Regions from separate parts of the Homo sapiens genome. Here region 2 is linked to region 1. The links come from fine-mapping of genetic effects on gene expression. A gene starts in region 1. The other region holds a variant in brackets. All regions are shown on one strand. Distances are between the middles of the regions.

Region 1 (4,411 bases):
AAACATTAGCCAGGTGTGGTGGTGGGCGCCTGTAGTCCCAGCTACTCAGGAGGCTGAGGCAGGAGAATGGCGTGAACCTGGAAGGCAGAGCTTGCAGTGAGTGGAGATTGCACCACTGCACTCCAGCCTGGGTGACAGAGCGAGACTCCATCTCAAAAAACAAAACAAAACAAAACACAAAACAAAACAAAACAAAACAAGAATATATGCAAATGGCCAACAAGTAAATGAAAAAATGTTCAACATCACTATCAATAAGGAAATGCAAATAAAATCCACAAAGAAATATTACCTTATGTACCTGTCAGAATGGCTATGATAAAAAATATGAAAGATAAATGTGGAGAAAAGGGAGCTCTTGTACGCTGTTGGTAGGAATGTAAATTAGTACAGCCAATATGGAAAACAGTATGGTGGTTCCTCAAAAAGTTAAAAATAGAACTACCATATGATCCAGCAATTTCACTTCTGAGTATATATCCAAAGAAAATCAAGTCAGTATGCTGAAGCAATATCTGCACTCCTATGTTCATTGCAGCATTATTCACAATAGCCAAAATATGGAATCAACCTAAATGTCCATCAGCAGATAAAGTGTTATATATATATTCTTTCTAATTTTGGCTTTATATAGATACACAATAGAATACTGTGATAAAGAATACATTGAATAGAATGTGTAGAATAATGCTACAATGTATTCATAGACTATACAATGTATTCATAGAATACGTTGTAGCATTATTCACAATAGCCAAAATATGGAATCAACCTAAATGTCCATTGGCAAATAAAGTGTTATATATATTCTTTCTAATTTTGTCCCTTTATATACATAGATACACATTAGAATACTATTCAGCCTTTAAAAAGAAGAAAATCCTGCCATTTTTGACAACGTAGATGAGCCTGGAGGACATTATGTTAAGTAAATAAGTCAGGCATAGAATTACAAATACTGTGTGATCTCACTTTTGTGTGAAGTAAAAAATGTTGAGCACACAGAAGCAGAGTAGAATGATAGTTGCCAATGTCTGTGGGGAGTGGTGGTGTGGGAATGGGGAGATATTGGCCAAAGTTAGACAGGATGAGTAAGTGCTGGAGATCTATTGTTAAGCATGATGACTATAGTCAATAATAATGTATAATTGAAAATTGCTGAGGGAATAGATAAGTTCTCACCAAAAAATGATAAGTATGCGAGGTGACGCATATGTTAATTAGCTTTATTTAGCCATTCCACAAGGTATACATAGTTCAGAACATCATGTTGTATACCATAAATATATACAATTTTATTTATCAGTTAAAAAAAGGAAAACAGAAAAAAATAAAAAATGTACTGGGAAAAAAATTTATAGCACTCCTAAACATACAGTAGGATGCCCAAAGTGCATCTTGAGCACAGTTTTTCAGTCTCAGCAGCATAATTGACATTTTGGACCAGATAAATCTTGTTGTGAGAGGCTGTTCTGTGCAATATAGGATGCTTGGCAGCAACCCTGGTCTCTACCCACTAGACGACTGTAGCATGTTTCGTTTTGATAATCAAAAATACCTGCACACATTGCTAAATGCCCCTTGAGGGGTAAAATTGCTTCTGGTTGAGACCCAGTCTAGACAAAGGTTGGGAAATTTGTTGGCTGTATCTTCAAAATATGTTCAGAATTCAACCACTCCCACCACTTCCATTTTCTCTCTTTGTCAAGCCACCATCATCTCTTGCCTGGATTATTGCAGTAGTTTCCTAATCAGACTCCTGGTATCTACTCCATTTTCTACTCTTACCTTTTCAGTGTTTTCTCCACACAGCATCCAGAGTGATTCTTTCAGAACATGCCAGTTTATGTCACTTATCTCCTCACAACTCTCCAAAGACTCTCTCTTTCTCTGAGGGTAAAATTAGTAGGTGAATTCAGGACAATGGCATGCCAGGAACTATGTGACGCATCACAACCACCAGCTGAACCAGGGATTTGTGAAGGAGCCAGAGGCATGTGGGCAGCCAATGGCCCCTGAGAAGGCTCAAAACTTTCTGGATGTTCTTTCTGAAGTCGTCTTCAGAGCCAGTTTAGTCAGGCAGGACTACTACTCTGATTCCCTATAATCAGATACTTTTTCTTCCAAATAGTCCTCTAGTTGGATCATTAATCAATTCACCAGACTACTGATGACAATTATCTCTATCCAAAAATTAAAGTCTACACTTAAAAAATTAGGATTTGCTGCCACTGGGTTCATTTGAAACAAAGCAGCAGGTTCTAAATGCAAACCTTTAAGAGGAATCCCTGAAAGTGTTTTTAATTGATGGCAAGATCAATGGACTAAAGTAGAAATTCTTAAGGCAGTTATGTTGAAGAAGATAATGTTCACTTAGATTTTTATGTTTTGGGTATTAATTAATATGAGCTTTATTATAATATTTGAAATTACTTCCTAGAGTAATTTAGTAACTTGATATTTTATAATAATAACATTTTGAAACATTTCAAGAATATGCCCTAGATATATGGAAAATAAGTCACAAATTCAACAATAAGATAGATAAGAGATGGAGAACCACAATTACAGAAGAACCAGGAGGTATTCTCCCCCAAGATCAACATGAAATAAGATCTCATGAAAACAGCAAAATAAAGGACAGTTAAAGGTGGCAGAGTTACCGAAAACCTCACTTTGATACACAAAAAGTGTCAGCAATCTGTTAGAGCACAGAAATAGTGATTGCCCCTTTCACTACAACATGGAAAGATTCCACTTGGCTTTGCTAGTTGCTTTCTGTCTCTCCATATGGGAAAAATATAACTAACTGGATAATTTTCAACCAGCAAAAAAAGGTGGAGCATAAATTCTAAAAATAAGTATGATATAAAAATGCTGAAATGCTAAAAATGTTCGATAAGTTATAAATGGGAAAACAGATAAGAAAAGACATAGTAAAAGATTTTTACAGCTATGTGAAATAGGGCAAAATTAAGCAAAAACAAACTTGAAAGTGGAATACCAGAGAACATTTTTATGGTAATGACAAATGGTAATGTTCTATTGTATAACAAGAGCCCCCATTTCATAAGAGAATTTGAATGTAAACTGGGAATACTCAGCGATGTTCTCAAAACTAGAATTCTTTTCTAGTGAGAGAGATAATTCTGTTTTTTTTCCTTCCTGACATATTACAAACTAATTTTTCAGAGTTTTGTGAAATATTGTTAATTTTTTTCTTTTACTACTTGTTTTCTGGCCATCATGCTTCTCTAGGGAGAGAATTATGATAATCTGAGAGCATGCTGTTTTATACACCCTTAGCTTTAATCCCCTTTTAGATACTTTTTACTTTTTCTCCAGGCTTTTGACTTGGGATGACTTTTTTTTTTTTTTTTTTTTTGCTGCAGAATATAGTGCCATCTTTCATAGACAGTTGCAAAAGTAAACCTCCTCTAATAACATTCTAAAAATGTGATTATTAAATAAAAAGATGCAATTTAATAAAAGCCATGGTTCATAAAGCCATTAGTTAAATAGATTCATTAATAAGAACACATTTTCCCACATGAGACACTCCGTAAGTGGTGGTTATGGTCTCCAGCTAGCCTGCCAACTTTATTTAATTTACAATGCATTTGAAACTGAATGTTCTATAAATCAGATACATTATGGGTTAATAGGGCCTTTGGGGAGACAGTGAGAGGAATAGTCAGGGAATCTGACACCCATTATAAATTATGTTTAAGGCAATTGATTTTCAAGTCAAGTCTTCGAATGCCAAGACCTCAACTATAACAAGTTCCAAGAAATTGAGAGATTGGGACAGAAAAAAAAAGGAAGAATAGGAGGTGAAATTTTCTTCCTTGAGGGCACAAGTAACTGGACACTCTCCCCAAACTCTCCTACCCAGCATGAAGGGGACTCTTCTCCCTTAGCACCAGAAAACTCACCAGGAGAGGATTCTCTCTTTCCTCTAAACTCTCCCTCAGAAATCACTGCTTAGTATTGTTAAGCAGCAATTATCTATGGGTTTCTGCACATCTTGCAAAGCAGGCACTGAGTACCCTTTGTTCTCCACCATCTTTTCAAGGATGTTTGCTAAGAGAAAATATCTGGAAGATAGAGATGTTGTCTCTTTCAAGAGAAAGGATAGGGTTGCTTATGGCTTTGGGACATAGAGATAGTATCTCCCTCTGGAGCAATAGGCAGATACTCTTACTGCCTGTTACAAAAGATTTGGATCCCCTAAGCTCAGGGTTCCACTCTTGCAACACAACCCTATGGGAATTGGGGCTCTGGTGCAATTGCAAATGTTACTGTGGCTACTGTTATTGCTCTGAGTAATGAATGGTCCTTTGTTTCTGATTCAGGAGGCTCTTCTATCAGTATCCACGGAAGTGTGTCAGGCGAACTTTTTAACCTGCAA
Region 2 (4,411 bases), 25 kb before region 1:
AAAAACGGTGGTTATTTAAAGCATTGTTACTGTGGTTGAACTCTTTGTCTGAGAGATCCAGGATTTATACCTGTGATTGAAACACTGCAATTTTGTGAACAGTTTGGGGAAAAGGTAATAGGTTAACCAGTTCTTCAGACTTTCTGACATTTCAAGCTGTAAGTCTGACAACATAATCTAATTGGGCTATTAGCCTTATTCTAGGTTTTCGATTGAGCTGTTTTTTGACCTCTTTGCTTCTATCATGAGCAAAGACTGGGAAGAAAACAAAAAGTGAGCAGAAACTGCAAGTACTAGTTGATAGCTGAAAAGAGGGCTGAGACAGCTCCTTCAATCTCCACCAAATAGGTCTATAATGAGAACAGCAATTTTCAGAAGTGAAGGGACTGAGCCCAAGGTTGCTGTGTTAGGAGTGATGCACAGGGAGCCTGGGGTACAAGTGGGGTCTAGGAAGTGAGCCCAAGTCCCTGACAGCCAGAAATAACCTTAGTAAGGATGATTTCCCACCACAATACAGAAATACTGTAATTTGAAATAAATTTTTTATTGAAAATTCTCTCATAGGATTTCTGAGTTGTGTTGCTTATTTCCTTCCCAAATGATTGTTCCCTATTTTAGACTTGACCTAACGTAAGATATAAAATAGTTTCAGATTGGTTTCAGCTAACAGCTCATTCCAAATGATGGGTTTTTAAATGTAATTACCTTTTTCCATTTCTCCCCACTCCTAAACTCATCCTATATATTTGTGAGTAACTTAAAGGAATGTTATTTAATATTTGTGACTCTGCAAAATAATTTTACAAATAAATGATTTCTCTAGGTCTAGATCAATAGGTTCTTTACACATAAAATGTTTACAGACATGAATTAAACAAAATAAATTTGTTAAGAATAGCACACCAAGGCTAAAAATAAAACAAAATGAAATATTAGTGTACATGTGCAAGTACACTATACATATACAAAATAAACTCTAGTTATTTATAAAATTTGGAAGAAATAGACTGCTTATCCTGTAACATGGAGAAAGAAAATACACTTTGCATGATATTCTTATCTAAGACTTACGATACAGAGGATTTATTTATTTATTTATTTATTTTTTGACAGGGCCTTGCTCTGTTGCCTTGGCTGGAGTGCAGTGGCATGATCATGGCTCACTGCAGCCTCAAACTCAGGGGAACATATTTTTAAATAAGTTGTTTATTTTAGAAGTTTTCTAATATTCAGGAATTAGGTAAATTAATTTAGAAAGTTATTTGGAGAGTTGGGATTATAGATAGAGTTTTTTAAAATATAAATTCCATACCATTATTATGATTAGAATGTAAACTCTGGAAAGACATTTTTGGTTTTACTGTTTTGGCCACAGAATATAGAGTAGTTCCTAGAACAATTCTTGATGCATAACAGGCATTTGCATATAAATACATCAGTAATATTTGAGAATACATACATAAGTATGACTTTATCTGTGTGCACTTAACCTGATTCAAAGCAAAGTAGCATTTAATGTGTAGATTTTACATAAAATTAAACTCTCAGATCTTATTGTCAATTTTGTTCTTTACAGCAAATGAATTTTAACTACTTTAATCATTCTTTTATTTATAAATTAAAAGCTTTAGTATATTGTTATTAATTCAATGTAGTCATTATAATTTTCTCATTGGCTAAATATTCACAGAACACTTTCAGAATTAAAAAAAAAGACAAAGATGATGGTAATGGCTAACATGTACATGCTCCATTTATTCTATGTTGTGTATTTTTCTAAGCATTTACATGTGTTAATTCTAATCTTCTGTTATGGGATGCAACATGTCCATTAAAAAATATAGACACTCCACAATTTTCCTTGCAGCTATAAATGCCATTGTTCCTGTCCTGGCCAATGACATGTAATCAGAAGTCATTAGACTAAGAATCCAGAAAAGGCACAGACTCAGCTAGTGGACAGTGTCTGTAAGTACAGCAGCCCTCATAAGGACCTAAGGAAGGAACCCCATACTAAGGGTGATGGGGTCTAAAGATAAGCAATCTGGTACTGTCTACATGAGAAAAAATAACTCCTGTATAAACCACAGCAATCATGTTTTTGTTACATGCAAAAGAACTCTAAATTCATAACTGGTTTAGCTGATAATAGGAACATTTTCATCCATCCTTTCATTTCATAAATATGTATTGAACACTTGCTATGAGCCAGGTACTGTTCTAGGTAGTTGGGATATATCACCACACAAAACAGATAAATATCTGCTCTCAAGAAGCTTATATTGTAGAGATGGTGGGTCAACAATAAAGAAACTAATTATTTAGTTTATTAGAAGATGATGTGTTATGAGAAAGAGATGACAGAGCAGGATAAGGGAGATCAATAGTGCCAGAGAGAGGATAAAGTTGCCATTTTAAATCAGGCGGTCATGTAGCCCCATTGAAGAGATGATATTGAATACAGACTTGAAAGAGGTAAAGGATAATTGCAGATGAATGACACAACCAATGTGTATGTCTTAAGTGGCCAAGTGGCTGATATATTTGAAGAAGAACAAGGAGGCCTATGTGTTTAGGTGGAGTGAGACAGGGAAAGAGACCAGAGAGGTAATGCAGGGGATGGGATGGAGGAGT[A/G]GACCATGCAGAGCCTTGTAGGCCACTGTAAGGATCTTTGCTTTTACTCCGAAATAGGGAGCCACTATAGAGTTTTGAGCAGAAGAGAACAAATCAATGTTTGAAAATGATCTCTTTTGTTTCTGTGTTGACTACAGGGAAGAAAGGATAAAAACAAAGCAGTTTTTGGGAGGTAATTATATTAATTCAGGGTGTAGTAATTCATGAGGGTTGATACAGTTTTGCTCTGTGTCCCCACACAAATCTCACCATCAATTGTAATCCCCATAATCCCCATGTGTCAAGGGCAATTGAATCATGGTGGCGGTTCCCCTCATGCTTTTCTCATGATAATGAGTGAGTCTCGCAAGATCTGATGGTTTTATAAGCATCTGGCATTTCTCCTGCTTGCACTTCTCCTTCCTGCCTCCTTGTGAAGAAAGAGCCTTGCTCCCCCTTTGCCTTCTGCCATGATCGTAAATTTCCTGAGGGTTCCCCAGCCATGCTGAACTGTGAGTCAATGAAACCTGTTTCCTTTTTAAGTTACCCAGTCTTGGGTATGTCTTTATTAGCAGCTTGAGAACGGACTAATACAAGGATCTAGACCAGTGGTAGCACTCGGGGTAGGGAGGGAGGAGTATTCAGATTATGGATATATTTTGATGGCAGAGCCATCAGGATTTCCTAAGAGGTTTGAATGTGGGCTGTGAGAGAAAGAAGATCAAGTATGGCTTCTGGGGAAATGATGTAGGGCGTTTTTAAAAGAACTTATCTTTATAGCGCTTACAGCCAATATATTATAAAAGCTTGCTACCTTATTTGAAGCCCCAGAAAATAATGTCTCTCTGAGTCATTAAAAAATTCTAAAGATTAGAAAGTCAAAGTTAAACAACAACAACAAAAATTTCAGAAGACTTCTCAATTAATGATGACTGTGTATCTACACTTCAGGCTCCAAACAAGCTGCTTAGTTTGGACAATGTCAAGTTTTTGCAAAAATCTTCCACTTCAACAAGAGTAGATTTGACTGTCTGTGAATAATGGTTATAGGAGTTGCCTAAGGACCTTATTTTTGTCGAGTTGTAGTTTTCACAAAGGCTTATAATATTAGACATGTACAGATAAAATTAGTGTAACCCACTGAGATTTAGAGGTAGTGTACCGAAGGCTAGCACAAGATTATCTCAGAACTAGAAAAATAAGGTTAAATTTTAAGAGTTAAATTACTAAAACCTTCATGTAATTTATGAAATTATCAAATCTATGTATATTTTATTCATCAAATTTGGAAGAATAAGGCCTAGAAATATGTTTGAAATATGATTAAATGTGAAAGGAACTAGAATATAATTAATGATGTTAACATATATATGAAGACAGACTGGTTTACAAAAGAGGGAAAGGCTACAGGAGTTTGGAGAAGGGGAACATGGGTAAGAATTTTCAAGTGTTTACTTTCACATTCTGCTTACTCTGACCAGAATACATTCAAAGTCTTACAACTGCTTGCACTGGAGAACAGCTTCTGACTAGCTTGAGGTGTAAGAACTAGTTTATCTAAAATATTCCTAGCCCACTCACATGTTTCAACTAAAGAAAGACTTTACTTAGTGCCCTTGAGGAAGAAGAAGATACATGTCTTTTTGGATATTGTAGACTGTGGTGGTTAATTTTATGTGTCAACTTGACTGGGCTAAGGGATGCCCAGATAGCTGGTAAATATTATTTCTGGGCATGTCAAATGAGGGTCTTTATGGACCCTTAACATTTGAATTGGTAGACTGAGTAAAGAAGATTT

Direction of the effects. Alleles are on the strand shown, and positions count from the first base shown. SD is a standard deviation of normalised expression in the study named.
For the expression in left ventricle of the gene that starts at base 1,864 in region 1, A is the low allele of the variant in region 2 and G is the other (small effect, 0.29 SD a copy in GTEx).

Evidence for each region. PIP is the estimated chance that this variant, and not a neighbour inherited with it, causes the effect. A credible set is the group of variants that fine-mapping cannot tell apart.
Region 2: its variant is the best candidate, but not a certain one, in a credible set for the expression of HRAT17 in left ventricle (GTEx, PIP 0.52).

Annotation. Positions count from the first base shown.
Region 1 is chr7:112,993,780-112,998,190 of GRCh38, forward strand. It overlaps HRAT17 (heart tissue-associated transcript 17), which reads right to left and starts at 1,864. Exons shown (of 6, transcript NR_110162.1): 1 at 1,789-1,864.
Region 2 is chr7:112,969,011-112,973,421 of GRCh38, forward strand. The region is part of intron 4 of HRAT17 (heart tissue-associated transcript 17); the gene reads right to left. Among named protein-coding and RNA genes, the nearest start is that of HRAT17, 24 kb to the right of the region's middle. The variant A/G (reference allele first, on the strand shown) is at 2,635.